Regions from separate parts of the Homo sapiens genome. Here region 1 is linked to region 2. Evidence: fine-mapped expression QTL. A gene starts in region 2. The other region holds a variant in brackets. All regions are shown on one strand. Distances are from middle to middle. Region 1 overlaps KLHL29 (kelch like family member 29). Region 2 holds the start of FKBP1B (FKBP prolyl isomerase 1B).

Region 1 (2,901 bases), 360 kb before region 2:
CCAGGCTCTGAGCAGGGCTCTCCTGCTCCATGCCTCCCAGTCTCGGTCCTTCTGCCAGGACCTGTGCGCACAGAGGGAGGCCCCTGGGAGTCAGCATGAAATGGGGTAGGGGAGAACCCAGGAGAAGGATCGAAGCCTCCAGACACCCAGGAAGGGGGCCTGCAGGGACTCTGGACACTGCAGTCAGGGTCCCCCGGGATGTGGGTTCAGAGAAGGATCTAGGGTGACAGCAATGGGAACAGGTGGCAACTGCTTCCCGGGCCTTTGGGTCAGTGGTCCTGCGCTGTCGCCCCCAGAGAAGCAGCTGACGGCCAGCAACTGCCTGGGCGTGCTGGCCATGGCCGAGGCCATGCAGTGCAGCGAGCTCTACCACATGGCCAAGGCCTTCGCGCTGCAGATCTTCCCCGAGGTGGCCGCCCAGGAGGAGATCCTCAGCATCTCCAAGGACGACTTCATCGCCTACGTCTCCAACGACAGCCTCAACACCAAGGCTGAGGAGCTGGTGTACGAGACAGTCATCAAGTGGATCAAGAAGGACCCCGCGACACGCACACAGGTGGGGCCTGCCCTGTCCCCCGCCCCTTCTCTCTGGGTTTGGGGTCCCCCTGCGGCAATGGGGTCTGCAGCAAGGAGGAAGGAAGTGAACCTTCCTTGTCCTGCTCTCCCTAAGTGGCAGAGAGGTGAAGGGCGGGCAGAGAGGTGAGAAACCAGTCACCAAAGGATCCTCAAGGGCTGGCATTCCACCCCAAAGGAGACCCAAGTCGGCCAAGAGCCGCAGCACCTGCACTCTGCAGGGAGAAGTGGGTCCCTGAGCCAGGGGGCTCTGGGGCTCCCAGGAACACGGACCCAGCTGGAGGAGCCCATACCTGCTCTGATTGTTGAGGGGATGGACAGCCCGCAATGGACCAAATGGAAACCCCTGCATGCAGGAAGAGGGAGAGTGAGGTCCTGAGGGGACTGTGTTGGGTAAACAGAGGATACAGAGAGGGCTCCCGCCCCAGATCTCGCCATTGAGCCCCAGAGAAAGGGGTCCTCAGATCAGGTGGGAGGCAGGGTTTCTTTTCAGAGGTAGGAAGTTAGATGGGGCAGCTAATAACAGTGACAGCCACAAGTCCCTATGACTCCCAGATCTGTGTCTCAGGCTGAAACCCTTTCCTGAGCTCCAGACCCCTCTGCTCAGTGGCCTTCTGGGCCTCTCCAGCAGAATGTCCTGCAGATCCGTCTAATTCACCAAGCCGAAAGCCTACACCTCTTCCTGTTCCTTATTTCAGCGATGCCTGGTCCCCAGAACTGAAGCTTAGCTTCCTCCCACTTCTCCCATAGCCATTTCGCTACACGCGCTCATTCCTGCCTCCTTCCTCCCCTTTAAGTGGATCGACTTCCCTCTCCCCATCGAGACCTTCCTCCTCTCGCCAGGATTACTGCAGCACCTCCTAAGTGGTTTCCTTGCCTCTGTCTTGCTCCCTCCAAATCCATTTTCCACCCTCCAGCCTGAGCGGTCTCTCTAAAAGCACACTGAACATCTCATCCATCCACTCAAACCCCTCCTCAGTTGCCTCGTCGACTCCACAGGGGAAACTGTGCAGTCCTTGTTGAGCATGAGCATGAGCTGGCCTCCCCAGCCTCTCTCCTCTCACTTCTCCCTGTCTCCCTAAACGCCTCCTCAACAAAATCCTGTTACATCTCGTAAGAATAAACCCCAGACAATTCTCCAGACACACCATTCTCTTTCACTCTCTGACGCCTCTACACGGGCTTCGAATGTCCACCCTCCCATCCACCTTGTGCCTGGCAGAAGTCTGCCCATTTTGTATACCCCATCCAGATGCCATTCCCTCTGCAAAACCTCTTACTCCTGCACCCACTACAAACCCTCAC[T/C]AGACACTCCTCTTGCCCCTCGTGAATTTTTCATAGCAGATCCCCTCCCATTAAACTGTGTACCCCTTGAGGTCTGAAACTGGGTCACAGTGGTCTCTGCACCCCCAGTGATGAGCGTCATGCCTGGCCTATGGTGGTCTCGTTACTCATGGGATGAAACGAAAGTAGAGTGATGAGCAGAGTTTGTTAGGAGGGGAGATTCAAGGGAGCCTGTAAAACCACCTCAGTGCAGGGTGACAGTTTGAGGCCGTGGGACATGGGACACCACTGAAAGTTTTCGGTGCTGGAGAGACACAGGCTCCCACGGCTGAGACTTACAAGCTCAATAGTCGCCATCTCCTTGAAGCTTTCCTGGGTCCTCCCACCTGTTCCTGAGTCCTTGTCACACTCACAGCTCTTTAATAATCGCGTCTTCCTCATTTTAACCCCTCGCCCCTGCCCCCAGTGGCCTGATCTGCAGCAGGGGTCCACAGCCCCAGGTGGAGTGAGAGAATGGGGTGCTGGGGGGATGAACACATGCTCCCACTCCTGCAGGGCTGGCTGCAGCCTGCCAGCCTCCCCTCCGCACCCCTGCGCTCCCGGCCCTCCCCTCCACACCTCCAGCTGACTAGACTTCCCTTCACCTCTGTCTAGGCTAGCAGAGTATCTACACTCCCAAGCCTAACACAGCCTGGAATTATCCATTCTTGTGCAGCCCCACACCATTTCTTTCCGTCCGGGAGGTGGCTCTCTCTTGCTAGTCTAAGAAGATTCTGTCTCCTGTACCCTGCAGTACGCGGCTGAGCTCCTGGCCGTGGTCCGCCTCCCCTTCATCCACCCCAGCTACCTGCTCAATGTGGTTGACAATGAAGAGCTGATCAAGTCATCAGAAGCCTGCCGGGACCTGGTGAACGAGGCCAAACGCTACCATATGCTGCCCCACGCCCGCCAGGAGATGCAGACGCCCCGAACCCGGCCGCGCCTCTCTGCAGGTATGAAGGGGCACGCCCCGAACCTCCCAAGAAGCAGTGTCTTGGGCTCAGT
Region 2 (2,901 bases):
TGGTGTCTCACGCCTGTAATCCCAGCTACTTGGGAGACTGAGGCACGAGAATCGCTTGAACCTGGGAGGCGGAGGTTGCAGTGAGCCGAGATTGTGCCACTGCACTCCATCCTGGCGACAGAGTGAAGATTCTGTCTCAAAAAAAAAAAAAAAAAAAAGGAGAGAGAGAGAGACGGGATCTCGCTATGTTACCCAGGCTGGTCTTGAACTTCTAGGCTCAAGCAATCCTCCTGCCTCGGTCTCCTACAGTGTTGAGATTACAGGTGTGAGCCATTGTTCCAAAAATTGATATACTTGGCCTCACATCAATTTTTGGAACAATGCAGGTAATAATGAGGGGGAAAAAATTTTAAAAGTCCCAATTACCCTTTAAACAAATATTACCTCCTCCAAAAAATATTTTTCTAGATTCCTGAATGTATTTTTTGGTGGAGGAGGAACTCAAAGTAGAATTCATTTACATATTCATTCATTCATTCCACAGCACTAATCACTCCATGCAGTAACTGTGTGTCCCCGTCCCTCTCAGACTTAGTACCTGGAAGACAGCCAACCTGTCTTAATTCTATTGGTATCCCCAGGGCGCATTTCTTTGCCTTGAAAATTGAGTACCCAATAAATGTGCGTCGAGCAGAACTACACGAGATGGAGAACAGGGGTTTAGGGGTATGGGGGAGAGTCAGCAATTACTGGTGTCCTCCCTCCCTCCCCCAGCTCTGCTCCTACAGATCCAGGACGCCTAGCGAGGGTAGGAACCTCTTCTGTGCTTCCGCAACGCTCTGAACTGCACGGCACTGAGCGCATCTAATTAAAGTGATGGTTTCATTAGATAGCAACACAGCGAGACCCCGTTTCTACAAAAAATAAAAATAAAAAATAAAAGATTAGCTGGGCGTGGTTGCTCGCGCCTCTAGTCCCAGCTACTTGGGTGGAGGCTGAGGAAGAAGGATCGCTTGAGCCTAAGAGTTCGAGGTTGCTGTGAGCTATGATCGCGCCACTGGACTCCAGCCTGGGCGACAGAGCAAGATCCTCTGTCTAAAATAAAAATAAAAATAAAATGATGGTTTAATCGCCGGCCTTTGCCCCTTCTGCCCCCCACCCCCCACAAGTCTGTAGGACTGGGTTGACTTCCCAGAGCTTACTACAGATTAGATGCTAAATAAATGTCTATTGGACGGATGCGCGAATGAATGGATGGATGGAGGATGTGGTTGTGCTTACCACGCTCCCTGGTCAGTGGGTTAATGTCGTCAGGCGGGGCCAGGCTCGCTAACAGCCGGGCGGGGTCCCTTCCCCCGGGCCCCGCCCCGGCCGACCCCACCTTTCCGCGCGGCTCCGCCCCGCCGCCCCCTTGCCAGTGGCCCCTCCCCGCGCAGGTCCCGACTCCAGCCGCACCTCCTCCGGCTCTGCAGTGGCGGCGAGGAGGCGAGCCGGAGCGACGGCGGGGCTGGGGCCGGAGCCGAGCCGGGGTCGGGCAGCAGCAGGGACCCCCCAGAGGCGGGGCCTGTGGGACCGCTATGGGCGTGGAGATCGAGACCATCTCCCCCGGAGACGGTACCGGGCTCCCTCCGGAGCCAGGGGAGGGGAGGGGTCCCGGGGCGGAGCCCGGAGGGCGGGGGTCTGATTCGGAGGTGGCGTGGAGGGTGCTGAAGGGTCGGGGGGCTGGATGGGGAAGGCAGGCGGAGACGCCGGACGGGATTCTTGGGGGTCTAGGAGACCATCCTCCGCCATCCTCTTCCGCGCTCACCTAGGGGAATGTAGGCGGCAGCTCGGAGGCGGGGGTCTGCGGCCCGGAGGCGGGGGTCTGCGGCCCGCCACCGCCCCGGGCTTCTCCTGTCGCGGCTGCAGTCGTTCGGTTATCCGCTGCTGCTGATACCCCAGCCTGGGTTTCGGCTTCGCTTTCCCTGCCCTACTCGGCGAGCTCTGGAAAGCAGGACCTGCTCTCGGATACCCGCTGCTCGGGGACCTCCTCCTAGCGCGTCCCCCGCCGGGCCTCCCCTCGGTCGCTTCCCTGCGGGCCGGGCTGTGAGCGGCTGTGGGGACAGACCCAGGCTGGGGAAGGGGGAAGCGCTCCCTTGCCCGCTTCCGGATCTCGCTTTATCCTGCCGCCGCTTTCAGACTCCCTGGCCACCCTGTCCACTCCCATGGCCTCCACATTGAAGCTTCTAAGCCCAGCCCTGCGACCTACGGCCGAACCTCTCCCTGGACGTCCCAGGGTGCTCCCTGGTCAGCAAGTCCAAAACAGAACTCTCGCTTCCCACCTTCTCTCCTAAGTGATCCTCTTTATCCCCCTTCCGTGTCTCACTTTCCCAAGTCCTTGTATTACTGGGTCTGGGTGTGCAAGGAATAGCCATTTCTTTATTTCTTGAAATTTAATTAATACCAAAGCCCCCATTGTCTGCAGGGTTTGATGGGCAAACTTCATATCAGATATTATTAATATGAACAGCTCCCCTCCCCAGGAAATTGGATAACTTCTTGGCTCCAGGCCATCTTCCTTGTCCAATCCCAGCCACTACTTCAGATATCCCCTGGAGTACAGGCTTCTTTGCCCACGCAGGAAACATTGCTGCTGGGTCCCAGAAAGCATCTCCCTGAGGCCTTTTCATCCCTCAGCAGCCCCTGAGCTAATCTCCCCATCTTCAGTCTCTCCTCCCTGCTTTCAATCTCGTCCCCAATCTCATATTCACTCCCTTTCTATATCATAGCCTGAAGACTCTTCTTAAAATGCAGTGGCTCACGCCTGTAATCCCAGCACTTTGGGAGGCTGAGGCGGGCGGATCACAAGGTCAGGAGTTCGAGACCAGCCTGACCAACATGTTGAAACCCCGTCTCTACTAAAAATACAAAAATTAGCTGGGCATGGTGGTACGCACCTGTAATCCCAGCTACTCGGGAGGC

What was found. PIP is the estimated chance that this variant, and not a neighbour inherited with it, causes the effect.
Region 1: its variant is the best candidate, but not a certain one, in a credible set for the expression of FKBP1B in whole blood (TOPMed, PIP 0.82).

The regions. Positions count from the first base shown.
Region 1 is chr2:23,692,973-23,695,873 of GRCh38, forward strand. It overlaps KLHL29 (kelch like family member 29), which reads left to right. Exons shown (of 14, transcript NM_052920.2): 8 at 297-556; 9 at 2,651-2,849. It also overlaps a transcript of ATAD2B not described here. Among named protein-coding and RNA genes, the nearest start is that of ATAD2B, 230 kb to the right of the region's middle. The variant T/C (reference allele first, on the strand shown) is at 1,879.
Region 2 is chr2:24,048,333-24,051,233 of GRCh38, forward strand. It overlaps FKBP1B (FKBP prolyl isomerase 1B), which reads left to right and starts at 1,409. Exons shown (of 4, transcript NM_004116.5): 1 at 1,409-1,554. The coding sequence starts at 1,518. RefSeq lists a silencer at 1,271-1,570.